Linked DNA regions of Homo sapiens: region 2 is linked to region 1. The links come from fine-mapping of genetic effects on gene expression. A gene starts in region 1. The other region holds a variant in brackets. All regions are shown on one strand. Distances are between the middles of the regions.

Evidence for each region. PIP is the estimated chance that this variant, and not a neighbour inherited with it, causes the effect.
Region 2: its variant is the best candidate, but not a certain one, in a credible set for the expression of ACADM in ovary (GTEx, PIP 0.85).

Annotation. Positions count from the first base shown.
Region 1 is chr1:75,719,143-75,728,624 of GRCh38, reverse strand. ACADM (acyl-CoA dehydrogenase medium chain) reads right to left here and starts at 3,916. Exons shown (of 12, transcript NM_000016.6): 1 at 3,808-3,916; 2 at 137-224. The coding sequence starts at 3,837. It also overlaps a transcript of SLC44A5 not described here. RefSeq lists enhancers at 3,701-3,790, 4,441-4,530, 8,263-8,888 and silencers at 3,921-3,970, 4,021-4,070.
Region 2 is chr1:75,634,297-75,643,778 of GRCh38, reverse strand. It overlaps a transcript of SLC44A5 not described here and the pseudogene LOC100421536. Among named protein-coding and RNA genes, the nearest start is that of SLC44A5, 28 kb to the right of the region's middle. RefSeq lists an enhancer at 3,368-3,527. The variant G/A (reference allele first, on the strand shown) is at 4,837.

The sequences.
Region 1 (9,482 bases):
AAATTATCTGTGGACAGTGGACTGGTTCTACTCATTGAAAGACATTATTAAGTTTATTTACAAACATATTCCAAACAAAACATATAAAGCTTCATATGTATAAGTTTAAAGTCAAAAGATAGAACCGAACATATACCAAAACTAAATCCTAATCCTGGTTCACGTTGTCGATTGGCTTTTGTATGCTGTGATCTCCAATGAAAACGAGAAATACTTCTCAGGACCTGTAAAGAACACTTTTATTAAAATAAATTTGATAAGTTAAACATTAATCAGATAAGAGACTACTGATAATCATAAGTGAGTACAGCAACTGGTTTGACCATACTCATAGTTTTTAAAGTCATCACTATTTAAATGCCTTCAATCATAATTTAAATAAGCCAATTATCAGTTATATAAATTCCTATTACAGAGGAGATGTTTTTAAAAAGTAATGAAAATAAAGTCAGTGGTATTTATACTACTGAAGTGGAGGGTTTAGGACAAACAACAGTCAAGGGTAGTAGTAGATGTAGGACCACTATTCTGGGTATCTTACAAGCTCCTAGGACATTAATGGTTGGAGAGTTGGGGTGGGGAGAACGATAGGCTGGAAGTGAACATACTGTGTTCAAGAGTTGCCTAGTCCATCAACTTTGATACCCTGTCACTGTGAGCCTCCCATGCATGCCTCTGGAAACCTTCCCCTCAGAGGATCTCATTTTTTAGGATACCCCACTCTAACAAAACAAATTAGCATAAAACCATGTTCTGTATTTTCTGCTGTCTACAGGGATTCTTACAATGTTCTGAGCAAGGAGTCACCAAACCAGTGCAGCCACATCATGCTGTCTATTGCCGCTTTCACAGCAGATCTAAGTAGTTACCACAGAGACCATCTGGTTCACAAAGCCAAAAACATGTACTATCCGTTCCTTTACAAACACGTTTGCCATCCCTCTTCTAAACTACTAATACACTACTTGTCTTAGGATCTGAAATATAGTCATATTTCTTCAAAGGAACATATAAAGAAACAAACAATCAAATATACATATATTATTGTTTTGCAACCCATTTTTATATTCATGACAGTTTAATGGATACAAAAGTAAAAATTTGCATTTATTAAAGCTGCCAAACTGGGAACCACAATGGTGTTCTTGAGTAAAGGTTTCAGGACAGTCAAAATTACACAATTTTCACTGTAAAAGATTTTAATTGAACTATCCAGCAATTTTAACAAGCTTAGATACTAAGAGAAAAGAGCAGCTGAAGAATATACTAAAGTTTCTTTATTTAAATTCTTATGTTTTTCAAAATCCGTAAAAAGAAACTGTCTTTGTAGATGACAATTTCAACTTATAAAAGACGAATTCCTACATGTAAGGTGACAATATAATTAAGAGTGTCAAATATTTGTAATTGAAACAGTGCTTTCCAAATAACATACCTCATACTACAGTAATAAAAACATACAGAGTATGAAAACTCGCATTTTCTTTGCATCTTCATTAATTTTATTTTGAAAGTGAAACAGTGCCAGGTGGGGTGGCTCATGCGTGTAATCCCAGCACTTTGGGAGGCTGAGGTGGGCGGATCACGAGGTCAGGGGTTTGAGACCAGCCTGACCAACATGGTGAAACCCCATTTCTACTAAAAATACAAAAATTAGCCAGGTGTGGTGGCACGCACCTGTAGTCCCAGCTACTCGGGACGCTGAGGCAGGAGAATCGCTTGAACCCGGAAGGCGGAGGTTGCAGTGAGCCTAGACTGCACCATTGCATTCCAGCCTGGGTGACAGAGCAAGACTCCGTCTCAAAAAAAAAAAAAAAAAAAAAAGTGAAACAGTTTCTCTGGTGCTTATTGTCCAGCAGTCACAGACCAAATCTACTCTGATTTACAGTCGCGTTACACAGGTTAATTCACTGAATCCCAGGTCAAGTCTAGGATTAAGCCATTACTTTTATTCCACTTTCGCATGTGAAGAAACGAAGGCTCAGAAAGTCAACTAAATTAGGCAAAGTCACTCTACTATTAGTGCAACCAGGATTCTAACATTTACTATCAAGAGCGCATGCTATTAACCACCTTGCTATACTGATCTTTCTGTTAGTATCCTAATTGGTCACTAGGTTCCATAACAAAGGAAAACATTCCACAAAAATCAGAACAAAAAACCTGACTCTATTATAAATGCGTTTTTAAATACCATGCACAAAAGTCAGAACTCAAACCAGGTTAAATGGTCTACTGAGGGACTTTTTTTTTTTTTTGACAGAGTCTCCCTCTGTCACCCAGGCTAGAGTGCGGTGGAGAGATCTCCGCTCACTGCAGACTCAGCCTCCTGGGATTACAGGCATATGCTACCATGCCCAGCTAATTTTTCCTATTTTTAGTAAAGACAGGGTTTCCCTGCTTTGGCCAGGCTGGTCTCGAACTCCTGGCCTTAAGTGATCAACCCGCCGAGGCCTCCCAAGGTGCTAGGATCACAACCGTGAGCCGCCGCACCTGGCCAACCGAGGGAATTTAAATAGGGAAAAAGTCACTTCACATGTGACTGTTCAGGAAAATATGTTACATAGAACAAAGTGCAAAGGTTGCTATTACCAGAATACAATGCCCATCAACCTGTTAATTACATAACAAAGTTAGCCAGTTAATTAGAGAGGTGGTTTGCAAATAGAAAACAGAAACAGCACGGGATCTGGAGTTATAATTGCTGAATGTGAATCTAGGTTCCACAACCATATTTGTGGCCGTAGACAGGTTTACAAACTGCTTATAGCTTCCGTTCAAAACCAAAAAATGGGACTAATCTCACTGCGTATTTTCGGACGATTAAAGTACGATAATGTTTTGAAAGCCTAATGCTATATAACTATTGGTTTTATTACTTCGGGCTCTCTGTCTAGAACAATGAAATTCCAAATATCGAAACAGCACCACTAGAATTGAACACTTTTGTGCATTTCTTGGGAATATAAGAGTGTCAGTTTTATGGGTTAAAGAAGAGAAAAAGGGTGTAAGTTTTCTATATCAGGTTTTTTTTAGATCCTTCCTTGGAGGTTGAGAAATCTGCTTTTCTGGTGTAGGAGTTAAAAATAGCTGAAATCTCCCAATTTCTGCCTTCACTGCACATTAACTTGCATAACACCAGCAAAACATGGGCAGCAATTCTTTAGGATTATTCTAAAACCGCAGCTTTTTTGGTCCAAGACATAACTTTAACTTAATTTTAAGTGACATCTAAATGGCAGTGGTGTGAACATATCAAGAATATTTAAGATACCAAAATTCATCTAGTGACAAACTTATTTAGAATCTATTAAGATCCAATACTAGAATATACACACAAGTTCACATAAAATTCTGCAGGTTTTTTTTTTACTTTTTTTTTTCCCGTAAGCAACGTGGAAACGTTACAACGAAAAGCTTATTAAACATTAAGTATTTCAAGGAGTAGCTGCTCCATTTTTCTTTTTCCCGTGGTTCTGACACAGAGACGGGGTCACTTTGGAAAAAGGTGGGATTCCCGCGGTAAATATTTGGAGGGTTTACCAGAGAAAGAAAAACGATATTCTAAAGAGAGGATGCCGGCTATAACGGGGTCGCCTGACGGGAGGATACGGAAAATGAAACGCTAGGCTACGTTCCGTCCGGTGGTAGGAGGCGTGAAAGCAGGTTGGGGGCCCCTAGGCTGGCTCCTTCCTCAGCCCGACTTCCCACTCCTCCCGGCCGCACCTATTTTTGGCCCAGGGCCCCCTGCTCCGACACCACAATACCCATGTTCCAGCCCCACCGCACCGCTGGGCTCCCTCTCACCCTGCAGCATCGCCCGAACCCCGCTGCCATGTTGGCTCCCGTTCCGGCCACTCGGACAATAATACACGGGTCACGGCCTTGACATACTCCCCGAACGCGGGACTCCTCTGGTCCCGCCCACTGGAGCCCGTGGGCGGGATGGGGCGGGGCGGGAAGAGGCGGTTGGGCTGCGGAAGGACGGGGCGCTGCGCTAGGCGGGGTGGCAGCGGTCCCCGGCGCCGGGTAGCCAACGCATGCTCCGTGACCCTTGCGTGCGCCGTCGCTGCGACCTGGGGAGGGGTCGCATCCCCTCTCCGGGCAATCTCTGATAGTCCTGGTTTGGTTTTCTGCGTTTCCACCTCTGGCCCTCTCTGTGGGACGCCGAGGCTGACCGCAGCGCGGAAAGAGAGCCAGGGCGGGGGAGGGGGACGGCGGCGGGGCTGGGAGGGCCCGGTTGCGCTGAACGGTGGGGGGACTTGCGGCGCGGTGCAGGACGGGAACCTGGGTTAGAGGGCGTGGCTGGGGCCTGGAGGGAGAGCGGCCCCCGTGGTCAGCCTTCACCTTTACCCGGAGAGAACGGTCAAACCCAGATCGTGTCTGCTTGGCGGATTCAAAGTATTAGTACATTTTGCTCTCAAATGCCCTACCTAAAGCGAAAGCATACTTGTGTTTCCTTAAAATTTAAAAGAGAATTTAATTGTTTAGGTAAATTTGACCTTTCCGCGTATTCCCAAGGCTGTTTATGACTTGTCCGCTGATGTGGTGTCCTTGGATATGCGGGTGCAATCCGAGGCTGTCCAAAGCTCCTGGTTCAGCGAATGATGGAAGTGAATGTCTCCCTGAGGAATTCTACCTGGAGTCACTTTCTCTTCCAGTGAGACCCTGAGTTTTGAGATGGTAGCTTATACTAAATCTTATACTAACTTAACATTTTCTTTTGCCCAATAAAGGTCACCCATAAATTCATCTAATTTAGCTGTTAAAATTCTATATCCTGTTATTGTATTCCCCTACTTTGTCTTCTGGGAATTTATAGTGTGTTAGTCCTAGGTACAAGGCAGAATGTTAATTAAGCGCTATATTCAAAGTGAAAGTACCAGGAAAATTCGGAAAAGGGATAAAGAGCTGAGTTTGTCCTGGTATAGGCAAGAAAGCCTTCAAAGTGGTGGTGGTAAGTAAAACACAAAGCGGACTCTTAAAGATGATTAGGAATTGTCTATTCATGTCTCCTTTGTTCCAATTTCTTATTCTGAACATTTTAAACACAGAAAAGATGAACGAAAAGCACAAAATCACCCATATGCCTATTGTAACCCCTTCTTACTGTACACGTGGCTGGCAGAGAAGCGAAGATGGAGCCCTCATCTTAAACATGTCTAGTCGGTAGTTCCTGCCACCATTCACCCAAGCAAGCTACCCCCTTGTTTGTCTGTGCCTGCAGCTCGACTTCACAGGCTGCTCTTAGAAAAGGATTTGGGGCTGCTTTTCATTAAAAAGAAAAGCCTTACTGATGTTGGGAACGGGCGCTCAGTGTTGCAAAAATCAACACTGAGACAAAGGAGCTCTTAGCAAGGCTAGTTTACTTTCTGCAGAAAGGTTGCCGCTCGCTAGTAGTCTTGCCACGAGAGCACACACGCATAAAGGAGACAGGGTCATTTATAACCTGACACGTGCACCCTACTACCGTGTCCGGTTTCCATTGGCTGGAAGGGGACCTCTGTACTTGTCCTGATTGGCTAGCAACTTAGAACTTTCCAAAAGAGGCAAAGACAGAGGAGAACAAAGGAAGGAGGAAGCAACTTGTGGAATGCTGAGAAAGGTAAAAACACCTCCAGATAAGGAAGAAAACAGGCTATGGCCTAATGCTTCCTTGGACCAGTATAAGCATGCCAGGGCAAATATCTAGGCTAAAATGTGGCAGCTAAGAGCACAAAGTACATTGATTTCTTTATTACGGCCAACAGATATCAAAGAATGTTAGTGTGGCCAACTGCCACGGTTACTACTTGAGACCATCGTTACAGCAGTTACTACTGTTACTGCTTGAGACCATCATTGTGAGATCAAATGAAGGGACGAACGTAGAAATGATAACTTAAGACAAAAGGAACTGTTTTAAGGAAAGGGCCAGGGGAAGAAGAAGAGAGCTCCCTGCTTCTCGTGAGCAAAGGCAGCCACAGAGCTTCCACAGCCCTTCCTATTTTTTGGGTAACAGGAGCAGGGAGGAGGTGGTAACGATTGGTCAGCTGCTTAATTGATCACAGGTTCATATTGTTACTGACAGGCTTCAATTATGCCTAATCATAAGAAACATTTGTGCCTAGATCGTAACTACCCTCAGCAGTCCTCCTGGGTGGCATACGCAGTTTGTCAGTTCGCCAACGTTCTGCATTTATGAGAAACAGTTTGCTGCTTACTCATATAGCCTCCAGTGATATACTGAGTTGATCACGAACCTCATTGTTTCGGCCTCCAATATGTTAGCACAGTTCTTTGAATAAATTTTGCTTTTAAGAGAAGTTACTGTTTATTCCTAATTAGACGGAAAGGAAAGTCCATTTGAAGAGGAACCTCTACTTCACTTTTTACACTGAGGACTCCCATACTCGTACTATCGGCCTGAGTAATTTCTTCTCAATATCATTATCACCTAGATTCAAATATTTTTCCATATTTATTTATATATTTATATGTGTACCTATGTGTGTGTGTTTTGGTTGTTGGTTTTATTTTTCTCAGATCTGTAGGTTGTAGATAAGACACTTCAGTTCAGAATACTTTAGCTATATGTCTCCTACAAGGACATTTTCCTATATAACCATTTCCTATAAAACCTTTATCACATCAATGAAAATTAACAATTATTCGCTACTATTATTTAAGGTCCAGAGAATATTTACATTTCTCCAGTTGTCCAGTTGTCTCCAGAATACCTTTTGTAAATAGTTTGTTTTTGAACCAGGATCCTATGAATGATTGCCCATTGAAGTTGGGCTTTAACTTTCTTTGGCTTCTTTTAATCTAAAGCTTTTAATCTAATTCATTTTTCCCAATAATAACTGTCTTTTTAAACAAATTTAAGATACCAAGCAGTTGTCATGAAGAATGCCCTAATGCTGGATTGTCCGATTTTATTTATTTTGTACCTCTAGATTTTGTATTTCCTATCAGTTGCAAGTTACCAGAGGCTTGAGGAGTTCAGATTAAACATTGGATAAGGATACTTCAAAGGTCATACTGTGTAGTTAATATTGTATTACATTAGGAGGCATTTAATATCAGATTTGTCCCACTATTGGTGATGGTGTAAGCCAGCAGTGTCCAATCTTTTGGCTTCCCTGGGCCACACTGGAAGAAAAAGAATTGTCTTGGGCTATACATAAAATACACTAACACTAATGTTAACTGATAAGCTACAAACCAAAACAAAAACGCAAGAAAATTTCATAACGTTTTAAGAAAGCTTACAAATTTATGTTGGGCTGCATGCAAAGCTGTCCTGAGCTGCATGTGGCCTGTGGGTTGCATGTGGTCTGTGGGCAGCAGGTTGGACAAGCTTGCTGTAAACCAAAAACAAAATTCTAAATTCCCCCCAACTATCTGAATGGACTTTCTCGTAGGCTAGGGCACTCTAAAATTTAAATTTAACCTGAAAGACTACTTCAGGCCATGATGGGAAGTGGGGGTTGGACATGCCTCTTTATACCTCAGTGATGTTAACATCAACACAGACCTTAAGTCTGATAAGAAACATTTACAATCTCTTCTCTCTGAAGGAGAGAGATAACAGAATGCTTTTCTGTTCTCACCTGAAGGCTTCCTTTGCACAATAAGAACTTTGGTCTCCACAATCCTTTAATCTTAACCCAGACATTTCCTTTCTGTTGGTTCCAGGTCTTTAGATAAACTTAACCAAGTGTCAGCCAGAAAATGTTTAAATCTGCCTATAACCTGGAACCTCCCCCCGCCTACCCCCCCAGCTCCACCCCTGCTTCAAGTTGTCCTGTCTTTCTGAACTGAACCAATGTATTTCTTAAATGTATTTGATTGAAGTCTCATATTTCCCTAAAATATATAAAACCAACCTGCACCCCAACCACCCTGAGCACATGTTCTCAGGATCTCCCAAGGACTGTGTCGTGGGCCATGATCACTCATATTTGGCTCGGAATAAATCTCTTCAAATATTTTACAAAGTTTGACTCTTTGTTGACAATGCTATTTGATCATTTGATTATTGACAGACAGTTCTTTCTATGGTAAAGTTATAGTTTTCCCTTTGCAATTAGGAAGTAATTTATAGGGTAATATTTGGCATCATGCCAAACAATCTTTCATCTACATTTTTGCCAGTAGTAGGAATAGAACCATCTCTCAAGAAATACCTTTTTATTAATTAAGCACTGTTTCACAAAACTTCTCTACATTTTTAGGTGAAATAATTCGAACGTCTCCCTGGTGTTCCTTCTCCCTAACCCATCTATTTCAAGGTAAGCAGGACTATACAGACCTACGCTCCAAAGTCTAAGGAAGCTGAGAGGCTAAAGAAAGAGGCTGACACATTAACGTTTCTCAAAAAGAAACATTTAATGGAGACTTAAAAACAGAAGCCCTGTCTGCATCTCAGGCGGCAGTGAGACAAGATGGTGGATCCCAGTGCCATTACCCCTCAGACCCAGGGGTTGTATACCACAGGGAAAGGGTGACTCAGAAGGGACATGTAGGACAATTGAAATACAATAACATCAAAGTTGTCTTGATCTAAGGGCAGGATTTACAGTAAGTACATGCTTTTACACAAGAAACAATAGAGAGAGGGGAAATCTTAGAAGCCTTCCCAGAACAGGGGAAGTCCACATGGTGGATTAACATCCTAGGTGGCGTTGCTTTGTCCTCCACATTCCACTAATTCATGTGTAGAGTCTCACGCACCCTTCTTTTTTGCAATGGTCCCAGAGCCTTTGAAATCCCACTGGGCCATATTGGTTTCTCATTGCCAACATACTCCTTGGGATTTCAAACAAGGGAGATTGACAGGCTTCGTTGAATTTCTCTAGTCTTCAGAATACTATGACTTTAGTTTTCTCGGAAGTAAAACAACAAAAGATACATAGCATCAATAATTTGAATAGTAGAAATACAATCCACACAAGGATTACAATCAGAAGAGAATTTGTATGCCAGAACAAAAATGAAAGGAGCCTATTCGAGTAAGCAGCCAACTAAAAGCATCATGAAGAAAATTAAAACCAAGTTCCTTTTTAGAGACTTCTTGTAGCCAGGAAATAATTCAGGATTTAGTCCAAATTATAGGCAAATTATAAAAACTCAAAAGCAGTGGTCAGGGCTAGAATCTAAGATTTTTTTTTCTCCAGTTTTCTTATTTCTACCAAGGATAAATTATACTAGGACCAATTTATTTGCAAAATAAATTTGTCTCATTATATTGGCCTGGTTATTTGAATAAATTGTAGCAGGAATAGTGATCAGCCATATAGGCTCCTTTTAAGTTGGCTTTGCTAGAACTATCAGAATTTTTTATTCCAGTGTTTTAAAGCCTCAACGCCAGAAGCAAAGCCAAGGATTCACCATTAGACTGCATTTATAATACCTGTACAAATTTCTCTCTTCTTGAGGTCTCAAAATATCTTGAGATTTCTGATCCTGTTAGAAAGTGACATTCATTACTTACCACG
Region 2 (9,482 bases), 85 kb after region 1:
CCTCACAATCATGATGGAAGGCTAAGGAAAAGCAAAACCATGTCTTACTTGGCCGCAGGCCAGGGAGCACATGCAGGGGAACTGCCTTTTTATAAAACAATGGGATCTTGTGAGACTTATTTACTATCCTGAGAACAGCATGGGAAAAACCTGCCCCCATGATTCAATTACCTCTCACTGGGCCCCTCCTATGACACATGGTGATTATGGGAGCTATAATTCAAGATGAGATTTCAGTGGGGACACAGCCAAACCAATGACCTAAAGGTATTTACACATCTTTTTTCTATCATGTTAACTAATGGACAATCTAGAATGTAAATGAATAAGATATATACATATAATTAAACGATATTTGCTTGTTTTTATATTCTATATTTATGAATTTAGTTCTACTTAGAAAATATCCAGATAACCAAAGACTACTTTAATGAAATTAATTAGTTTAACAATAGTCTGGGGTCTTGAAGTCAGCCAGAGATTTTGGAAATTGTTTGAGGTTGACATTAAAGAGAAACACAATCCTTTTTGATCTTAAAACAGTTCATCAGACAAATATGATATTTAAAATTTGATATAGGTAGTATAAGTAAAGTTACTAGATCTATATGATTTATGGTATTATCTGAAGCTCACAAGAGCAAATCTTTCCAAAGATGGTTGAATGATAATTTTATAATTTTTAACAGTTAATGGAAGTAAAAATCAGTATAGGAAATCTAGCAAATCAGAATTAATTAAGTTTCTCATGAGAAAATAATATGCCAACATTTTTCACACTGTGATGAAATCAGGGGAAGACATGTAGCTATTTTTAAAGCCAAATTACCAAACCAATTTAATTTGTCCAGTGATTCGCCTTGATAGAAATATAACCTAAACTTATTTGTTTACAATTTTTTCTGTATTTACCAAATATTAAAACTTTCCAATTTTTGTTTAAAAGTACTGTTCTCTTAGAATTCTCCCCTACCCCCACTGTTTTCCAAACTGATAACTACTTATATTTTTCTGCCTCTTGAGACTTTGCAACCAAGGCCATTAATTTAATTTATAGTAAGCTCCTCCTCCTCCTCCTCATACTTCTCCTTCTTGTTTTATTGAGTTATGGCTTCAGCAAGCCTCTCAAGCTTTTATAAATGGTCAGCACACTTAAAACATTAGGATATAAATTTTTCTCTCTTCTTCCTGAAGATTATTGAATTTCTTATTCGTCTCTATAAGTCAATCAGAATAGGAATTCGTTTAACCATGAGACTTTATAATTAAATTACATTTTTTTTCAGACATAGACACAAATCTTGACGAACACTTCAGCCCTGCCTCCAGAATGAAAGGGGGAAACCTAGACCTGAATGGGCTTGACCATCTCACAGCTGCTCACGTGATGACCATATTCGTGGCAGGTAAAAAGATTGCTGTATCAACTCAAGAAAGCAGTAGCCTCACTGTCTTTGTATTTTGAATTGCAACAACAACTTTGATATCAACAATGAAGCAATGGTATCTAAGAACAAAAGAGCATTTGCCAAAAGTCATCATAATATCAAGTGATTGTATAAGCAGAAACAAGCTGTCACAGACCTGTGTGTCAGCTAACATAAGGAGAATGCTTTCTTCTGATGCTATTTATTTACAGGCAGTTTTAATATATATCACTTCAATTATATCTACATCAAATAAAATAAAAAATTAGTGAAGCCCCCAGATTCTTCATTGGACCAGAAGACACAGAAATAAATCCTGGAAATTATCAACATTTCTTCCACCATGCAGATGAAGATGATGAGGAGGAAGATGATTCTCCACCAGAAAGGCAGATTGTGGTTGGAATATGTTCCATGGCAAAGAAATCCAAATCCAAACCAATGAAGGAAATTCTTGAATGGGTCTCCTTATTTAAATATATCACAGTAGTGGTATTTGAAGAGGAGGTTATTTTGAGGGAACCAGTGGAAAACTGGCCTTTATGTGATTGTCTTTTTTCTTTGCACTCTAAAGGATTTCCACTGGACAAAGTGGTTGCCTATGCAAAACTCAGGAATCCATTTGTAATCAATGACTTGAATATGCAGTATCTCATACAAGATTGGAGAGAGGTATATAGTATTCTTCAAGCTGAAGTTATTTTACTTCCTTGTTATGCAATTTTGAACCGTGACCCAAATAATCCCAAAGAATGTAATCTGATTGAAGGGGAAGATCATGTAGAAGTAAATGAGGAAGTTTTTCAAAAGCCATTTGTAGAAAAGCCAGTCAGTGCAGAAGATCACAATGTTTACATTTATTACCCAACTTCTGCTGGCAGTGGAAGTCAAAGACTCTTTAGAAAGATTGGCAGTAGAAGTAGTGCTTATTCTCCACAAAGCAATGTACAAAAATCAAGCTCATATACACATGAAGAGTTTATGCCCGGAGACGATACTAATGTTAAGAGATTCCTCATGTTTTGCACCACCAACATCTTTGGCAGTCTGAAGCCTATGGACTCTTTCTTAACAAAAGTGTTCTTAAATGCTTTAAACATGTAAGATTATGATGGAGACAAATTTTATTCAAATATAATAAAATATTTAAAAATAAAAAAGTAATAGACACAAATATGCCATTTGTTTAGAAAATGTTTCATACTCAGCAGAAGTATCTTGTCATATCTCTGGGCAAGGAAAGAACTCTGGGAGAGTCTAAAGTTGCCTTTCTTTGTATTTTATTATGTCCTTTTTGGGGAAGACTTGTTCAGACATGATCAACTTATGGGTTCTACTGTAAGATTTTATAATATTTTGTCATAGTTCACATGAAGTTCTTCCTCACATCTTCACTTGGCTCATTTGTGACTATTTCCGTGGGACTTTTTTATTTATTAATATTTTCCAAGAGGAAAGAATAAAAAATTCATGTACTCTGAATCCTTTAGTTTCCTCAGAAGGCCATGAAGCCCCAGACAAGCCAGAAGCAATTATTCCCATTTTAAGGACATTCGAGCCTGCATACAATTGTAATACAAACCAAGCAAAGCTCTTTCAGAAGGCACAACTCTACTTCATGATCCATGAAAAACTGGTTTTAATATTTGCATGCATCTTCTTCCTATGAAGGTCTGTTTGAACTGGATATTTCTATAGCATGCACAAATGATAGATTGTTATGATCAATTAATATTCAAAATTTCCCCCAGAGAGAGAGAGAGAATGAGAGGTAGAATCACTCACAGGTACAGAAAGAACTACCATTATAAACAGACTATTATAAAGACAAGCTTCCTTCTGTGATGGTTTCCCAATGAATCACACTTCTCTGTCTCCATATGCTTGTGTAGTCCCTGTCACATTTACTCTGGGCTTGACCATTGACTTGCTCCAGCCAACAAGATATCAGCAGATATACAGCAAGCAAAGGCTTGATAAGCATGTGTGCACTGGGGCTTGCTCTCTTGGAGCACTTCTGCCACCATGTGAAGAAGCCAGGATGAAAGACCTCATAGAGAGAGACCCAGCTGGCTTAGCTGGTCCAACCATCCAAGCTGAGACTGTAGACATGTAAGAGAAGTTGTATGATATCATCCAGCCCCAGCTGAATACAGGGATGACTACAAACACATGAGTTAGGCTTGGCAAGATCAGCAGAAGAAACTCAACAAAAATTTGGCGAAACTGTTGCTGTTTCAAGGCACTGTGTTTTGGGGTGGTTTGCCACACAGTAACAAGTAACTTACATATCTTTATTTTCTAAGGAAAGTAAAAGGCCTTTTCCCCCTTTCAGTACAACGACCTAAAAATAACTGACCAAAGCAATTATAGATCATAAGACAAACAACATGAAGTTTCTTTCAATGGTTGGAAAAGTTAACAAATCAAGCAGATGTGACAAGGGCAATTCCTCAACCCCAAGGCTGAGGCCAGCCAAATCTGACTACCCCCTTATCTCATCATCTGGTTAAGAGATATCAGGAGATATCAGAATTTCTATGACAGTCAGACAAACAACTAAACAAAGATAAAGGGCCAAGCAGATTCCCAGTTACCTGTAACTTGTCAGAGACCATAGAAAACAATTTCCCAACATTAATTCAACTGCAACTGTGAACAAAAACACACATGGCTAAGAGCCAGGTTTAGCATGTAAAAGCCCATGAGTTTGATCCCTGTATAATGGCATGCACTGGGGAAGTGAGCAAAGGCAAGACAGAACACGGTGGGTCTGGATGAAAAACTTTCTTAGGCTGCATGCTTCTAAGGGCTCAGAGGCTTATCGGAATAACAGTCAAAGAATAATTTAGAGGTATTTAGTTTGGCTAGAAACTGAGCTGAGTTTACTTAGATTTGAGAGAGGTAGTATTTTCCCTGTATCAAGCATAGGTTGATTATCATGGAACAAAAGTAAAGAAGGCTTTATTAAAACATGAACTATAGACTGGTAGAACAATAATTTTGTTTTGTTTTGTTTTAAATTGACAGATAAAATTACATGTGTTTATCACAGTATGTTTTGATGTATACATACATTGTGGATTCACCTAATCTAGCTGATTAACGTATGCATTACCTCACATAGTTATCATTTTGTGGTGAGAACACTTAACATCCACTATCTTAGCATTTTTCAAGAATACAGTATATTGTTATTAACTATAACCATGTTGTATGATAGATCTCTTGAAGTTATTCCTCTCATCTAACTGAAATTGCATATCCTTTGACCAACATCTTTCCAACTCTCTTCCCCCCATCCACCTCAGCCCGTGGAAATCACTCATCTACTCTCCAGTTACATGAATCAACTTGTTTAGATTCCACATACGTGTGAGATTATGTGATAATTGTGCTCCTGTGCCTG[G/A]CTTATTTCACTTAACACAGTGTCCTCCAGGTTCATTCATATTGTTGCAATTGGCAGAAGATATCTACATTCTGATGTTTATTGCAGCACTATTCACAACAGCCAAGATATTGGAATGAATCTAAGTGTCGAAAATGAAGGAATGGATAAAGAAAATGTGGTAAATATACATAGTGGAAAGCTATGTATAGTCATAAAAATAATGAATTTTGTTTTTTGTCCATGGGCAAGTTGATTGGCTGAAAACTACAAAGAAAGAAGGACCGTTTTCCTTGGAGCAGGCTGACAAGATTTATCAGAGAAAGCAAATTTAATTATTAATGGGTTGCTTGAGAAACTTTATGATTTCAGCTGTGGAGTATATTCAATTGCTGTCTCTGTGTAACACAGCCTGGGCTCTTTCGTTGGCTTTCCTACCTTAGTTAAACCTAGACTGCACCACTTTCCTCACTATAAATCCTCATGGGACAGTGTTGAACTTTTCCTGATTCCTTGCAGGTTTTATTTCATTTTGTTTTGATATTAAGATCCTACAACTTTAATACATATTAACACTGTGTTTGTTATTATAAGAATAAATACATTTCAGGTTATAAAATAGCTATTAAAACTAGATTCTACTTACTATGTTAAATCATACAAATGCTTCTATGTTTCACTTGTGTGATTTTGGAGCAGTGATGGCCATCAGAGTCACTATACTTGAAACATGAAACTTGCTTTAATCGTACTATTAGCTTCTAATATTATAATAAGACAATAAATGATGTCATATTATTTAAGTCTTTTTATTTTGTATCATATTTACTGCATAGAGATGTCATGAGGATTAAAAGAGTTAATACAACAATTGCCATGTAAATGTTAGCTATTATTACACAATTATAATAAATATTTTAAGAAGGAAGGTCAAGAGAATATACAATAATTTGGCAAAACTATGTCAACTGCATAGGCGGATTTATATCAGTGAGGTACTAGGTAATAGAGGGAAAGAAATTCACTATACTTTTGAATTAAAATTTCAAGCACTATTTTAATATCTTTTTGGAAGAGGCTAATTTAAGGGGATCTCATGGATAGTCCTTTTAAAGGCATGTCTGTGTATAGTGGGTATTCCCATGTTTCAATTCTTATAAATTTTCCCAATAAAATATTTTTTAATTTGTCTTCTCCACTCCCCCAGTTTGACCCGGAATTGATAAACTTTAAATACAATGAAGATATGTTTATCAGAAAAATATTTTACTCTGCTTAATTTCTTAATGTAATAAAATATATATCACCAAAAATATTGTCATTTTAAACATTTTTCAGTTGCAATTCAGTGTCATTAACTAAATTCACAGTGTTGTACAACCATACCATTATTTCCAAACACTCTTCATCACCCAGACAGAAACTCTGTACCCATTAAGCAATAACTCTCCATTCCTCACTTCCACTAGCCCCTGGTAACCTCTACGCTACTTCTTCTCTCTATGACTTTGACTATTCTAGATACTTAATGTAAGTGCAATTTTTGTCCTTTTGGGTCTGGCTTATTTCACTTAGTATAATGTTTTTTGAGGTTCATCAGTGTTGTGGCATGTATCAGGATCATTTCTTTTTATGGCTGAATTATATCCCATAGCATGTATAGACCACATTTTGCTTATCCACTCATATATTGATGGATGTTTGGGTTGTTTCCACCTTTTGGCTACTGTGAATAGTGCTGCAATGAACATTTTTGTGCAAGTATTGGTGTGAGTTTTTGTTTTTAATTATTTTGAATATATACTGAGGAATGGAGTTGCTGGCTCCTATGAACTGTTTCAGTTTCTAAATCTAAATTAGTTAAAATTATGTTAAATTAAAAATTCAGTCCCTTAGTTATGCTAGCCATATTTCGAGAACTCTTTAGTCACATACAGCTAATGATTACCATATTGGTCAGTGCAGGTCTGGATTAATAATTTGATGAATATCTTTATAATAAATCTACTAATTGTGCCCATTTTCTCTACTGCTCAAATAAGCCTTGTTCTTCCTGCTTTTGTGCTTTGGTTTACCTTTCCTGAGGTCATACTTCTTTTTGCCTGGGATATCTACCTATTCTCTATTTTCTTTTATAGAAATGTTATCTGTTTCAGAAAGTATTCTTTATTACTGCAGCTCACACTGATCATTCCTACTCATAAACTGTCAAAGCATTTGTTAACTTTATTATTTCCATGACATTTACTTGCATTATACTGTAGTTATTTATTTCTTTGTTTCTTATCTGGATTAAAATTCCTTATTGGCAAAGCTAATAATAAAAACAAGAACTACATCAGCAAAACAAAACTAGTCATTTATTAAATGATTGCAGTTCCTCAGGCACAGTGTTGTTTTATACACTCCATTTCATTTACTTCTTAAAACAGAAAGGAAGTAGTATTATCTGAATTCTAAATCAGGATTTTGGGTTTACAGGCTAAGTATCATGTTTAAATCCCTATATCTAGCAAATGGTAGAGTCAGAATTCAAACTCAGGTATGTCAGATGCTCTTACAAGTCTGCTTATACTTTATAAATATTACTTTGGGAAATCTTTATAAATAATATTATCTAACATTTACTTATTGTTTACTCTGTGCCAGATCTTATTGTAAGTGCTTTTCTTGTATATAATATCTTAATTCTTATAACAGTCTTAGGAAGTGTGAGCTGTAATCACCATCATTTTATATATATGATAACAGTTCAGAAAAGTTAAGTTTCACAAGCCAGACACAAAAAGCCTAACATCGCATGTTCTCACTCATACGTGGAAGCTAAAAAATGTGTAAACATGGATGTAGAGAGTGAAATGATAGGCAAAGGAGACTCCGAGGGGTGAATGGGTGGGTGTGGCAGGGGTGCATGATGAGGAATTACTTAATGGGGAAAATGTATGTTATTCAGGTGATGGATACCCTGAAGCCTTGACGTTACAATTACACGATCTATGAATGTAACAAATTTACACTTGTACCCCATAAATTTAAACAAGTTAAAAATAAATACATAAATAATCCCTCCCCAAAGTTAAGTTTCATACCTATTAAATGGCAGAGTCAAGATTTGGACTGAGTGTAAATCAGAGCTTGCATTTTTTTTTTATTATTATTATACTTTAAGTTTTAGGGTACATGTGCACAATGTGCAGGTTAGTTACATATGTATACATGTGCCATGCTGGTGTGATGCACCCATTAACTCGTCATTTAGCATTAGGTGTATCTCCTAATGCTATTCCTCCCCCCCTCCCCCCACCCCACAACAGTCCCCAGAGTGTGATGTTCCCCTTCCTGTGTCCATGTGTTCTCATTGTTCAATTCCCACCTATGAGTGAGAACATGCGGTGTTTGGTTATTTGTCCTTGCAATAGTTTACTGAGAATGATTTCCAATTTCATCCATGTCCCTACAAAGGACATGAACTCATCATTTTTTATGGCTGCATAGTATTCCATGGTGTATATGTGCCACATTTTCTTAATCCAGTCTATCATTGTTGGACATTTGGGTTGATTTCAAGTCTTTGCTATTGTGAATAGTGCCACAATAAACATACGTGTGCATGTGTCTTTATAGCATCATGATTTATAGTCCTTTGGGTATATACCCAGTAATGGGATGGCTGGGTCAAATGGTATTTCTAGTTCTAGATCCCCGAGGAATCGCCACACTGACTTCCACAATGGTTGAACTAGTTTACAGTCCCACCAACAGTGTAAAAGTGTTCCTATTTCTCCACATCCTCTCCAGCACCTGTTGTTTCCTGACTTTTTAATGATTGCCATTCTAACTAGTGTGAGATGGTATCTCATTGTGGTTTTGATTTGCATTTCTCTGATGGCCAGTGATGGTGAGCATTTTTTCATGTGTCTGTTGGCTGCATAAATGTCTTCTTTTGAGAAATGTCTGTTCATATCCTTCGCCCACTTTTTGATGGGGTTGTTTGTTTTTTTCTTGTAAATGTGTTTGAGTTCATTGTAGATTCTAGATATTAGCCCTTTGTCAGATGAGTAAGTTGCGAAAATTTTCTCCCACTTTGTAGGTTGCCTGTTCACTCTGATGGTAGTTTCTTTTGCTGTGCAGAAGCTCTTTAATTAGATCCCATTTATCAATTTTGTCTTTTGTTGCCATTGCTTTTGGTGTTTTAGACATGAAGTCCTTGCCCATGCCTATGTCCTGAATGGTAATGCCTAGGTTTTCTTCTAGGGTTTTTATGGTTTTAGGTCTAACATTTAAGTCTTTAATCCATCTTGAATTCATTTTTGTATAAGGTGTAAGGAAGGGATCCAGTTTCAGCTTTCTACATATGTCTAGCCAGTTTTCCCAGCACCATTTATTAAATAGGGAATCCTTTCCCCATTGCTTGTTTTTCTCAGGTTTGTCAAAGATCAGATAGTTGTAGATATGCGGCGTTATTTCTGAGGGCTCTGTTCTGTTCCATTGATCTATATCTCTGTTTTGGTACCAGTACCATGCTGTTTTGGTTACTGTAGCCTTGTAGTATAGTTTGAAGTCAGGTAGCGTGATGCCTCCAGCTTAATAGCTTACCAACCAAAAAGAGTCCAGGACCAGTTGGATTCACAGCCGAATTCTACCAGAGGTACAAGGAGGAACTGGTA